Homo sapiens: one gene and its partner. The protein of the gene in region 1 interacts with the protein of each later gene in a biochemical or structural test. Each region holds a gene or a part of one and is shown on either strand. Other genes may lie near its edges.

What was found. Proteins that work in one complex are often made in the same cells at the same time.
Region 2: the proteins of RARA (region 1) and KDM5A form a complex in vitro, tested with the Homo sapiens proteins (one study listed by BioGRID).

The regions. Positions count from the first base shown.
Region 1 is NC_000017.11:40,312,171-40,319,196, forward strand, and holds part of RARA (retinoic acid receptor alpha), read left to right. Parts: intron 1-3,022; exon of another isoform or gene 3,023-6,581; intron 6,582-7,026. UniProt on the Homo sapiens protein: Receptor for retinoic acid. Retinoic acid receptors bind as heterodimers to their target response elements in response to their ligands, all-trans or 9-cis retinoic acid, and regulate gene expression in various biological processes.
Region 2 is NC_000012.12:302,321-309,346, forward strand, and holds part of KDM5A (lysine-specific demethylase 5A), read right to left. Parts: intron 5,686-7,026; coding exon 5,134-5,685; intron 4,770-5,133; coding exon 4,626-4,769; intron 1-4,625. UniProt on the Homo sapiens protein: Histone demethylase that specifically demethylates 'Lys-4' of histone H3, thereby playing a central role in histone code. Does not demethylate histone H3 'Lys-9', H3 'Lys-27', H3 'Lys-36', H3 'Lys-79' or H4 'Lys-20'.

The sequences.
Region 1 (7,026 bases):
CTGCCCTTTGGGTGCCCACAATGTGGTTGGCACTGATTTGTCAGAAATTGGGAAGGTTTCCCTCTAGACCGCTTGCCTCCTTTCTCCTCCTCCCGCAGGGTAGGGGCAGCTCTGTGATTGCAGGCACTTATGGGCAGGCCTCCCCCTAGGAAAGGGGTGTGGGATGCCCCCAGGATGGCCAAGTTGGCGCTAGCCCCAGGCTGGAGTGCTGGACATGATTCTGACCTGGGAGTTAGTGGGGGTAAGGCAGGGCATGGGCCTCCCTGCCCCCCTCATTTCCTGCTCTTTGGGCAGCTGTGGGCGAGAAAGGCTGCAGGGACTATTTTTAGTTGGTCAGTCCCCTGGCAGGAGGGACGTGCAGAAAAGCACGGGGCAGGCAGAGGGGCTGGCCAAGGTGAGGGTAAGCAGGCAGGCAGAGGAGTGAGGAAGGGCCAGAGGGGCAGAAGACAGCAAGGAGGCATGGGGAGCAGGGGCAGGACCTTACCCAGAGGGGCATGACCCAGGTAGATGGGCCGGGCTGGACTGGGTGGAAGAGTCCTGGCACCCTACAGGGTTTTCTTTATCCAGCTGGACTCAGAGCTGGAAGGGGTTTTAGAGGCTACCTAGGCAATCCCTTCCCCTTGCAGAGAAGGAAACTGAGGCCTAGAGAGAACACTCAATCAGTCATTGGCTGTGTTGAGACCTGAACCCAGGCCCTCCCTTTGCACCATTTTTCTGTTGTCATGGTTCCTCACCACAGCTCAGTGTGCTTCCCTTCCCTACTGCAGCAAGGAGGACCACGAGCCAGGCACACCTGGTCCATTTTCCCATCTGCTTTTTTGTGCAGGGTCTCTGAAAATCCCAGCTTGGTTTGTTTATAAGTCTCCATGTGGAAAGAGTCTGTGTCCAGGCTAGAAGGAGGTCAGAGTTGGGTTTGTTTGGGTGGCCTGTGGCCACTGGTGTGAATGGAGCTGCTGGACAGGCTCCAGCAGGCTCACAGGCTGGTGAGCTGTGGGGCTAGGAGACACCTTACAGAAGGGACGTCCAGACTCCCCAGAGCCCTTTGTGAGCCCTCCTCCTGCCCTGCCCAGGACCTGTGGGTCATGGTGGTTGTTTGCCCATCTCCCCAACAAAAGAAGGGAGCAGGGCTGAGGAGTGGGGAGATTACTACTGGCTTCTGATCGCTAGTCAGAAGGAGGCCCCCTCTGAGGCCTGGAGGCAGGGAAAGTTGGGGCAAGTTGGGGTGTGTATGGGGAGAAAACTCAATGGAGAATTGTGGTCCCTCAGAATTCAGTCTGCTTTCTGTCTTCTGCCTCAGGCTCTCCCCACAGGCCACCATGCTGCACAGCTGCAGGGGGAACCATTCCATAGACTATGATGTGAATGGCACCCCCTGGGGTTGTTCAAGGCCCTGCCTGTGTAGCCACACGTGGTGCATCTGTCTCCCACCTTCTTCCTTCAAATTAGTTCAGACCCACCTGGAAGGAGGTGTTCCAGACAGGCCTTAATCCAACACCCTCTCCCCTACCCTGCCTCATGCCACTCAACATCTCCTATTCCTCTGCTGCCCACCCCCAACGCACCAAGCAAGTCATGGTGCACCACCAATTGTGGTTCAGAAGCCCCTCCCCTTCTCTCTACGCAGTTTCTGTGTCTCTTGGGGGCTGATTTATCATACCCCCCATCAAGCCTACTGCAGTGTGTGAGAAATCAATAGTGCAAATGGATTGAGGCTGTTTAGCCTGTCAACTCTCCTTGGGCCCCACCAACTCTTCTGGGACTTGCGGAGTTGCTCAGTCCCCTTCTGGCTCAACATACACATATTTAGTGGTTGTAGCCAGAGCACTGAGCACAGGAATTATTCTTTCTGTTGGTCTCTGTCTCATTCTCTCTCATATACTAGGCTGGTCTTAACATGACAAATACTCTTGAACATTTATTTTCTAGCTTGGGTGGACGGGCTTAAAGGGCAGTAGGCTGCCAGCCAGAGGTAGGGAGGGAGGCAGGTGGGTGAGGGATATGGCGGGTGGAGGGGTGGGGTGGGGGTGGGGACGAGCTGGGGAAGGGATTGGGTGACAGCCCACCCCATCAGCTCTGGTAACTCAATCCCTGCACCCCACCCTCCCAATTTCCCTCCTGCTCAACAACTTCAGCAGCTGCTGGCAGAAGCAAGGCTGGCAGAAGTGTGTTTGAGTGCATGTGTATATGAGGGGAGAGGGTGAGAGGGGCTGTGGGGGCAGGGAGTGCTGCCAGGACATGTTAAAGGAGACTCACAGCCTGGGTACAACTTGGGTGGCAGGAGGAGGTGGGGCAGGTGGGAGAGTGGGTGGTGAGTGATGGGCAGGCTGCAGTGGGGGCAGGGCAGCACAGGGGTCTCACAAAACTTGTTGGCACTGGAGCGGGGCCTGGTGTGGTGGGGGTGGGCAGTGGTGAGGGGGCAGGGGCTGGCACAGACATTGCTGGCCCCAGAATGCTGAGGCCCATTCTTTGCCAGGGGGCGCATGTAACCATGGAGGGACAGTCTGCCCCTGTCTGCAATCCTTGGGCTGTGCCTGCTGGGCATCACAGTCTTGGTGGTGACTAAGTCACTTCTGTCCTGGGGCTGGCAAGGTGCCAGGCTCAGCTCTTCTCGGTAGGTGAGTCACTGCCCTGGCATCTCCCCCGGATGCAGCTGAGTCACCCAGCCATGCCTGCTAGGCAGGTGGGCACCAGGCTTGTGGTGGGGGTGGAGGGCTATGTGTGCAGCCCCCAGTGTCTTCTCTGATCTCTCTCTGGCATGTCCTGGCCCCACCCATAAACCTGCAGAGCCAGGCAAGGATGGCGCTTCTCCCTTGTGATCCACTAAGGGGTGAAGGAAAAGGTAGCAGGGCACAGAGTGGAGTCATACATGTTTGATTTGGAGTAAGTAGGGGAGGAAAGAGTTGAGGAGGGAACATTGATTGGGTTATATGTATATATATATATATATATATGCTTATATGTGTATATATATATATATATATATATATATATATATATATATACACACACACACACACACACACACGTATATATTTATTTATTTTAACAAAAAAGACACAGGGTCTTGCTATGTTGCCCAGACAGGTCTTGAACTCCTGGAGTCAAGCAACTCCTGGCGTCCCATCTTGGCCTCCCAAAGTGCTAGAATTAAAGGTGTGAGCCACCATACCTGGCCTGGGTTTGAATCCCAGCCCTGCCATTGACAAGCTGTATGACGTTGAGGAAGGCAATTTTCTTTTTGAGCCTCAGTTTTTTCATCTCTACAATGGCAACAGGAGCCTGCCCCTTCAGGACTGTGAGAATCAAATGGAGTGGGACTATTAAGGTACTTGTGGGAGGAGCTCCTTTTGGGATGAGCTAGGAGGCTTGGGAGGGGAAGAGGAGTCAGCTGGAGCTGGTTCCAACAAACTCCCGCACCATGGTCTTGGAGGGCCAATTGCTTCTCATCATCTCTTCGGAGTATCACTTAATGCTGTTCTTCAGGAGTTTCCACAGGCTGTGAGAAGACAGCCTTGTTGTACTAGAAGTGTGGGCCCTCCTAGGGTGTCTCAGAGCTATATTTTATCTCTTTTGACTACTGAGAACTGCCACTGGCCCTGGTACCTGTCCAGACTCTCTTCCTTCACTTCCTCTAGTTTGAAGAGGGATGGGGCTCAGACTCCTCCCCCAGCCTATCTCCTGTGTGCAGGGAAACAGTAGGCCCCAAGGAGTGTCCTTCTTAGAGTGAGGCGCCCCGAGCCTGTGGCTTTTCTCTCTCTGCTAGTTTCCTGCTGCTCCCTGGGTACCCTTCTCTCCTCCTGCATCAGAGTCCCTGGTGGGAGGGGGTGGTGGAAGCCCTGTTATGAGCCCAGCATAGCTGGAGTTCAACTGCTGCTGCAGATTGAAGACTCCTGGTCCCCCACCTGGGGACCTCTCCTGCCTTCTGCAGTCAAGCTTGGGTAGGGCTGGGCCTTGGACAGGTGGTACTGGTTTCCCTGGACAGGAAGGAAATGCCCCAAAGATGTGCATGCTTTGTGTTTGTACACACGGGTGCTGGTCTTGTTTGAGTGTCTGACCCCTGCGGGGGGTGGGTTTGTGTGTATGAATTTCTTCCCTCATCCACACATGGGGCTACTTCTGTGTCTGTGCAGAAGTGTGCCCCACCCTCTGCTTCATGCCCTTGTCTGTGCACAAATGTGTTTGGATGTACTTGTTCATGCGTGGATGTGCATACATGCGTCGGGGATGTACACATCCCTGCCCTGAATGTGCACGTGGAAATGCATTTGTACCAGGATGCCTGACCCTATGATGGCAGGTGTACCTGAAGGTCGTCCCACTTGGGAGGCAGTGTAGCTGTGTGCATGCATGCTTGCATTCTTGTGTCCATGAGCCTTCCCCTCCAGCCTCAAGGAAGGAAGACAGGTAGGATCTAGGTTGGGAGGTGTCCGTGGGCACTAGGGGCGGGCTGGCGCTGACTCCAGTCCTGGGCTGGTTCTCACCTGGGCAGAGCTCCCTGCTGTTGGCGGGGCTCAGGCTGGAAGGCCCTTGGGGGAGCGCGGCTGGGGGGTAAGGGGTTAAGCGGTGGCGTCCACATCTGGGAGCCATTGGCGCATTCCTGCCGGCTGAGCGCATGTTTGCGGATGAATCTGGACAGGACAGGGCGGGAGGGGCTGGGCGGGAGGTTCGCACCGGCGGACGGAAATCCAGACGGGAGCGGGAGACAGCTCCGGCCCAGCAGGCGGGAAGGGGCCTGGGGAAGCGCGGCCCAGCACTGCTGGGGCAGTTTCCCGTGCGCCGGCCCTCAGGGCAAAGGGTCCCGCCATCCTGGCTTGTCCTACCTTACCATGGCTCTTGGGCTAAAGCCAGGGACAATCAGATACTTCAATTCTAGACCCGGCTCTGCAACCGGTGCGACTGTGCACAAAACCCAGTGCCTGCTCTTGGACTCTCTTTCCTTGTTTGTAAAGCGGGGTCCGTCGGACCAGTGGGTTTGAGAGCTCTGCCACCGGGTCAGGCTGAGAGTCTCCTCACTGGGCTGGAGGCCTGGGAGTGCAGCACTTCCCCTTCCAGTGGGAAGTTCTGTGGGGGCACTTGTGGCCACTTCTCTGCCTGGGAACAGGGCGAGAGGGGAGTATTCTAAGCAATTCTGCTTCCCCCTAAGCCCGCCAGTGGACTGCTAGCGATGGGGACAGGATCCTCCCAAACAGAGCTGCAGGCTGGGAGGGGGGTCATGACTGTATTGGGGACTGGGGGTCTCTCAGATGGAGGGTGATTCAGATCCTGTCCAGCTGGAACATGAAAAAGAGCTTTCCTGGCTTCTCCAGACTTGTTCGGGAGAGAGAAGCTTGAGTGTGAGTCTTTGAGCACGGAGGGGTGCTCCTGGGCGCCCCTACTGGAAGATCCAAAAGTCTTGCCCTTTGAGGAGAAGAGTACTTTAAGGGGGCTGGGAGGGTTGGGTTGAGCCAGGGTTCCTAGGACCCACTGGAGCTGCAGAGGTGTTTGGGGAAAGAAGAGATATACTTGCGGGAGATCTACTCCTGGACTCTTTTTTTTTTTTTCTTTTTCTTGCAGCTGAGATAATTAAGATCCAGGGAAGGGAAGTGACTTGGTCAAGGTCACACAGCTCTCAGTTCCAGCTGGTCCCTAGAAGAGGATTATAATTATAGGATTCAGGGGCTTGACAGCTAGGGCAGGAGTCACCGCACTCACTTCCATATTACGCCGCCGCCTCACTTCTCAGATTTAGGTGTGGGTGTGTGTGTGGTTGGGGGGAAAGGAGTGTAGGATACCACACGCTGCGGTCTTCTCCACCGAGCGCTATTTTCATTCTTTCCGCAGAACCTCACCCCGTTCTTGCTCTGAATCTTCGGTTCTGGGTCTGAGGGAGGGATTCTCCCGGATTCCCACGGTCCAGTCTTCAACTAGGAGTGGCTCCTTTAAGACTCGCCCTTCCCGAGGTCTATTAAGGAGAGGCGGGGGCGGGCGTGAGCCTGTAGATCCGCCCCTGACTGGTGATTGGTCGGTGGGCGGGCAGGGGCGGGCCTGAGGGACAGGGCCTCCCCCTACCTCTGCTCCGTACCCTCCGCCCCTTCAGTCTGGGGCTCCGGGTAAAGTTTCAGCCTCCGCACGTGACTCGCTATGGCCGCTGCCATCGCCCCGCGCCCCTGAGCCGCGGCCCCCTGGACGGCTCCTCTCCCGGGACCCCGCACCCTGATGCCGAGCAGCACCAGGGCGCCGGGTTAGGGCAGACGCTGTGCTCGCTGGCACCCCGAACGGGTTGCTTCCCCCGCTGCGAGGTAATTCCTCCCCTGGGGATTTTGGGGAGCCCCTGGTTCCCGCAGGCGTCGGGGCCCCATGTCCTGCCCCAGATTGGTGCTGCGGGAGGGGACTGGGTACCGGGAGGCTTCCGACGGGAACCCGGGGTTTCCTGGGCTTCCCAACTCGCTGCCGCCGTGTCCAGGGTGGGGGAGCCCCGTCTGTGAGTCTGCCTGCGCCGTGTCTTCGCGCGCAGCCTTGAGGCGTCTGGGGCCGTCTGCTGCGCGTGTCCCCCGCGCTCGAGCTGTTGCAGAACCGCCGCTGGGAACTTCTGTTCTTTTTCTCTTTAATGATAAGCAAAACAAAAAGACTTGAATTCAAACCTGTTTGGGGAGAGATCGGATGCTCAACGGACTAGCCCCCTCTCTTTTTCCCTCCTGTTATCTGAGCTGCCCTGTGGTTTGGGGAGAATCAGCCAGGGGGCCCACTCCCACCAGAGGGAGCCGGCCGGGGGCCGGGCCGGTTCAGCTGGTGTCCCCCGTGGAGTGAGGGGAACCGTCAGAATTGGGTGCGGGAGCCAATGCAGTATGTGTGTAGGGGTGTTCCTGGGTCTTGTGCCACCATGGGGTGTGGGAACTTTTTGGGGTGAGGGGAAGACGGAATAGACTGACTTGTCGACTTTGCTCTGCTGAGGGTGTCTGGGACCTGGTGCCACCCACGAGGCTTGGAAGCTGCTGGCCAGATGTGTGTGTGAGCCTGTTGTGGGGTTGGGGGGACGGCTGGGAAATG
Region 2 (7,026 bases), on another chromosome or scaffold:
AGATATACAGACCAATAGAACAGAACAGAGGCCTCAGAAATAACACCATACATCTACAACCATCTGATCTTTGACAAACCTGACAAAAAGAAATGGGGAAAGGACTCCCTATTTAATAAATGGTGTTGGGAAAACTGGCTTAGCCATATGCAGAAAGCTGAAACTGGATCCCTTCCTTACACCTCACACAAAAATTAACTCAAGATGGATTAAAGACTTAAAGGTAAGACCTAAAACCACAAAAACCCTAGAAGAAAACCTAGGCAACACCATTCAGGACATGGGCATGGGCAAAGACTTCATGACTACAACAACAAAAGCAATGGCAAAAAAGGCAAAATAGACAAATGGGATCTAATTAAACTAAAGAGCTTCTGCACAGCAAAAGAAACTATCAGCAGAGTGAACAGGCAACCTACGGAATGGGAGAAAATTTTTGCCATCTATCCATCTGACAAAGGGCTAATATCCAGAATCTACAAAGAACTTAAACAAATTTACAAGAAAAAAACCACCCCATCAAAAAGTAGGCGAAGAATATGAACAGACACTTCTCAAAAGAAGACATTTATGCAGCCAACAAACATATGAAAAAATGCTCATCATCACTGTCGCTAGAGAATTGCAAATCAAAACCACAATGAGATACCATCTCACACCAGCTAAAATGGCAATCATTAAAAAGTCAGGAAACAACAGATGCTACAGAGGATGTGGAGAAACACGAATGCTTTTACACTGTTGGTGGGAGTGTCAATTAGTTCAACCATTGTGGAAGACTCTGGCAATTCCTCAAGAATCTAGAACTAGAATTACCATTTGACCCAGCAATCCCATTACTGGGTATATACCCAAAGGATTATAAATCATTCTACTATAGACACATGCACACATATGTTTACTGCAGTGCTGTTCACAACAGCAAAGACTTGGAACCAGCCCAAATGCCCACCAATGATAGAATAGATGAAGAAAATGCAGCACATATATACCATGGAATACTACGTAGCCATAAAAAAAGATGAGTTCGTGTCCTTTGCAGAGACATGGATGAAGCTGGAAACCATCATTCTCAGCAAACTAACACAAGAACAGGAAACCAAACACTGCATGTTCTCACTCATAAGTGGGAGTTGAACAACGAGAACATATGGACACAGGGAGGGGAACATCACACAGCAGGGCCTGTCCAGGGGTGCAGGCCTAGGGGAGGCATAGCATTAGGAGAAATACCTAATGTGGTTGATGGGTGCAGCAAACCACCATGGCACGTGTATACCTATGTAGCAAACCTGTACGTTCTGCACATGTACCCCAGAACTTAAAGTATAATACAAAAAAAATTATGGTTAAGTAATCTACCTTCTATAGTCTACAACCTATAATAACTCCTATACCAACAAGTTAAGGAGGGGAAGATAAATTTAGATGTGACAGCCTAAGGACACAAACCATTTAATCCTCTCTACAGGTTTTCAAACCTAGAATCTTACCAATTGCTCTTAATACAAGTATATGTCTGACTGACAATATATAGATTACAGTAAGTCTTCATGTAATGTCATTGGTAGGTTCTTAGAAACTGCCTTTAAGCAAAAGGAAGTATAGTAGCAGGTCTTTGAATAAAGTTGTTTTCATTTCATTATAACAGTGATGAGGGGGAAAAATAAGTTCAGCTTGCAGATCAGCTTGGTACTGCCCATTAATCTCATTGTTACACTTAAAGTCCTTGCAATGTTAAGTGAGCTCTGATTAGGTCTATGATTCTCCTTGAAATTAGTTTCCACAAGCTCACCTACATAGACACAATCCCAAAAGATGCAGGACAGACTTTGCTTCATTAAATATGTACCTCGTAAGTAATGATTTTCTGGATGGTAACTAAGATAAAATGACTGATTTTATTTTACTAAATAATTACCTACCCCTCCTCCTAAACCAAGAGGGGGCTCTTCCTCAAGCAAGAATACTAAGTTCAAAGTATTTTAAGTTATGAATTTATGGTCACAACAGAGGACATCACACAAAGGAAAAAACCACCAGGTCAAATGCAAATAAACCGGCAAATAAAATTTTCATTATACAATTATCGCTTGCTCTGTGGGAAAATGCTCAAGAGTATAGGCTTTTTTTTTTTTTTTTTTTTCATTCAAAGATATCAACATCAAAGTAAATTGGCAGGGGTATATAGCTCAGTGGTAGAGCATCTGACTGCAAAGTAAATTTGAACTTGAATTACCATAAGTCTTGCCACCATTCTTCTCAGCTGTCAAATACATTGCTAACACTAGAAAATCCATAATCTTATTTTTCTACCCTGCCAATACCCACTACCAAAGAGACAGTAAGCTAAGATTCTCATATAAATTCCTCCACAAAAAGACTACTCCATCCAACCATATGAAACTGCAGTTGTGATCCCTAGTCCTGAAAATCATCAATACTTGTGATGTTTTCATAGGTTACCAGTCTGCTTTCAAGCAAAGCCCATCATGTTAAGCAATTCTAGAAGAGTGGCTGATAGCTAATGTGCTAGAAAGCAACCACCAAAAATATCAAAGGCCTCTAACTAGGGTAAACGGGTGATTCCAGTATTCAAGGAAAAAGCTAATTATACTTGGCATGGGTTGCATTTCTTTTCAGCTGCTCTTAGTCACCCTATATACAACTTCGTAAACAAAGATAGTCATTAACTTCTGGATAACAACGTGCTTAAGAATGTACCGCTGTGTGTGGTATAAGCTAGTGTACCTTTCAGCAGACTGCCAATGAATTCTTCATAATGGGATTTAGCAGTACACTAAGATGATATTCAAGAACTGTACGCAACTGTAATGCCTCTTTTCTTAATAATGGCCCTCAATCAGCCCTTGAAAATCAGTGCAACAAAACTTGGCCATCTGTTCACAAAACTTTCAAAACTGAAAAATAATAATCTACCATATAATAAGATATTTTAATATAAAAAAAGATTATTTGAACAGTCTAATTCAAGTTTCAACTGTTTTCAAGTCTTTAAGTCACATAACTGAAAATTCCCATTTCTATCTTGAGAAAAAATATTTCCCAGCAGAGGAATCTACGAGCGTCTATGATGGATGGTTTTAATTTTATATCCTAGGAGTTTTAATGCTGATGAGATTAATGAGCAGTACCATGCTGATCTGCAAGCTGAAAAGACAAATAAAAGATAGTGAAGGGGTAGGAACAGAATCTCCCCTTGTTCTCTGGAAGCAGCCTTTTGTATCAGAGTAGGAATTCCCAGGTTACAAGAATAGATTCTAAACAAAGCAACTAAGAATCATATAAAACAAGTCAATGGATTGACTGTAATCTGGCAGGGTCTCTGCCTAATCACATTGTTATTACTAGGTTAAAAAGCAAAGGGCTTGCACCTGACAAAAAGGGCTAACGAAAAGCCAACTGGATCCAACACAAAACAAACTTGTCAAAACCTTCTCTTCACCACCAGTAACGTGTCATTACCAAAATAATCACATTGATGGTAAATAATTTGTTGTATCTGCAACTGGAACTCAGCAAATTCTAACCTGGGCCCAAGTATTATATTACCCATCTCCGAATGTGACATTCTATCTAGCACCATCCAGACGAGAAAGCAGAGCAAAAGACTCTAGCAATGGAAGTGTTTTTTTTTTTTTTTTTTTTTTGAGACAAGGTCTTGTGCTGCCCAGGCTGGAGGGCAGTGGTGCAATCATGGCTCACTGCAGCCTCGACCTCCTAGGCTCAAAGCAATCCTCCCACTTCAGCCTCCCAAGTAGCTGGGACTACAGGTGTGTGCTACCACACCCAACTAATTTTTGTATTTTTTGTAGAGATGGGGGTCTCAATATGTTGCACAGGCTGGTCTCAAACTCCTGGGCTCAAGTGATCCTTCCACCTCAGTCTCCCCTAAATTGTTAGGTTTACAGGCATGAGCCACCACACCAAGCCTAGAATGGAATTCTTAAAACTTAACTGTATACAGACTTTCACAACTCAAAGAAAAAAATCTGAAAAACTGAAATTGGCCAAGAAAGCTTTACATATTGTTTTTCTAGTTCCTCTAAGCCATAAGGGATTATAAGATGAGTAAAACAAATACAGATTTTTTAATTCTATTTTTTAAAAATTGTTTCAGGCCTGGCGTGGTGGCTCAGGCCTGTTATCCCAGCACTTTGGGAGGCCGAGGCAGGCAGGTCACTTCAGGTCAGGAGTTCAAGACCAGCCTGGCCAACATGACGAAACCCCATCTCTACTAAAAACACAAAAATTAGCCAGGCAGAGTGGCATGCACCTGTAATTCCAGCAACTTGGGAGGCTGAGGCACAAGAATTGCTTGAACCCAGAAGGCAGAGGTTGCACTGAACAGAGATCGCGCCATTGCATTCCAGCCTGGGTGACAGAGCGAGACTCCATCTCCAAAAAAAAAAAAAAAAATTGTTTCAGCAACCTGTAATGTTTTGAGTTTTGAAAAAATGCTACGACTAAAAACTCAGAACAGATAAATGATTAGTTTTCTCTTTCACTTTCAGGCCTCAAACATCACTGTTCAATAGCTTTTTTTTTTTTTAAACAAACCCAATGATCAGGTATGTACCCACACAGCTTGTCCATGTAACTACCTTCATGTCGTAGCCATATGTCTCTCGAATGTCTTCATCAGAGTCTGTTTCTTCATCATCATAGTCCATTGTTTGTCGAGGAGAAGATGACACACTGCTCACCACCCGGTTAAAAGCAGACTGCTGGAAACTAGGTAAGTGTCCCTAAACAACAAATAATTCCAAGATGAACAGCAAGACATGCTAAACAGACAGGGTAATTAATGTGTGCTTAAGATCACCAAAATGTAATGAATAAGCAAAGTGGCTAACAGAGTTCTTCAACAGTTAGTAGAAATCAAATTATTTGATTATGATGCCAAAGTCCACCTGAATGATATTACCAAGAATATTTCACTAAGTACGTATCCAAAAAAAGTGCTATAGTGTATGTTGAAGGAGAATGCAATGGATAATTGCTGACAAGTTACTGTTATTTTCCTAATCAATTGGTAAGACAGACTCAATTTACTATTTATACACTGACATATCCCATGAAATAGAAAAAGAATGTAAATCCTAAACTTGCCTGTAAGTCTGGATTGGCAGCTGCTTTTTGGAGTTCTGCACTGATGATCTTTTCAGTTTTTTCTCGAGCCGCCTGTTCCACCATACGCTGGCTCAACACAGATAGTTTGGCCAGGGCAGAGGATAGTTCATCTGTGGCTAGAGCCTGCCGCGCTCTATCTTGCCAACTCATAGCACGTTCTGTCAAACACTGCAGGGCCTCTCCTTCAGGCAACCGTACGGGCAACTTCTGAAGGGATACCAGGAGTGACAGAATAGTCTCTAGCCTGGGCCTTCGAGACCGCATACAAAGAGGGCAAAGGAATTTTACTTCTTTAGCTTGCCAGCTGGATCCTTTTTTTTGGGAACTTGATTTAGGAAGAGGAACACAGCTGTTATGGAACCAGTCTTTGCAGAGCTCACACTGTAGCATAAACCCACTGGCTGTCTTGCGGCAAATGCAAAATTTTACTTCTTCTATGCGGTCCACCATTGTCATCTTGGCTAGGTTGGCTGCTCTGAGAGAATGCATGGCTTCAATCTCTTTTTGCTCCCGTTCTTTGAAAACTGCCACCTGTACAAGACAAACATTTAATTGAAAAGAGTCACTGCAATATACCCCCCAAAATACCAAATCCTCAAGGCTGTGGGATCTTTCTCCCAAGTTATCAGTTATAAACAGTTTCCTAAAATGTGGGGCCCCTGGCGGTTTCCATGCAAACATTCCTCAAGTGTGAAATGGGCAAAGTGCTATCATATTTGATCATGTACATCAGTACAGTACTTTGGCCTCTTCTGTAGGGTGCGGTACAAAGATGGCATGCCTTGAAATCAAGCAACCTGGGTACAAAGCCTGGCTCTTGTACTTTTAGACTGTTAATATGGGGTACAAGTTTCAGAACGTCCGTTTTCTGAAAAATGAGAATACTACCAACCGTATTTTGCTGTTTTACGGATTAAATAAGATAACATATGAAAGTGCCTAACCTGGTACCTTGCACAAGGTAAACACTCTTAAAGTATTAGTTTCCTATCACCTCGTAATTCATTCCCTGGGGCAAGTCCTACACAAATTAATTTACTTCTCTCTGGAAAGCCTCTTCATGTATAAGTAGAATAACAAAACTTGACGATCAGTTGTAACAACAGAGTTTTATGAAACTCATTTTAACAAAGTAAATAAAGGCAAACAAATTTAATTATCAATACTGTCAGTGCATTTTCTTGTTAAACTACTGGCAGCTTTGAAACAATTTTGAAATAATTTCCAGTCCTACTTGTCTAGCAAGATTGACTTGTTAGGCAGGCTCTCTAATCAGAGAATATTTTCACTGGCTTCAAAACAGAATCATTTGTAGGCAGAAAGAGCTATATCACATGCAATTCCCTACTTTTATTGTCCAGATTCGTATTTATTTTCCATTTCCTCAGGCTCCTAGTAATCTTAACACATTCCTCCTATCCTCCAAAAAAGCATAATTCTCATCAACTACAAATATTTTAACACTCATTAAGAGATGGAAATCTGTAGCCTGGTATAATTCCTTTGAAAAACACAATAGTAATAAGAGTCATAAAATGCTTATATTAAATTCTAACCCAGTAATTACATTCCTAAGAGTCAAGTCTAGGAAATTTAAAAGAAGGAAAAGGTTATAAAAGAAGTTCATTTTATTACTTACAATAAGAAACTTAGTAACAGGCAAAATGCTCAAAATTAGAAAACTACAGCAGGTCCTCAAATAACATCTTTACGTTCAGTGTAGTTTCATTATAACACTGATGAGAAAAAAATCAATTCCTGGCCAATGCCACTGTCACTCACTAATTTACCAAAAACTGGATAATTATTTCGTTTTTATTACTCTTTCTTAAATGTAGGTTTAGCTCGAATTTTCTCAGTGTTTAATATCAG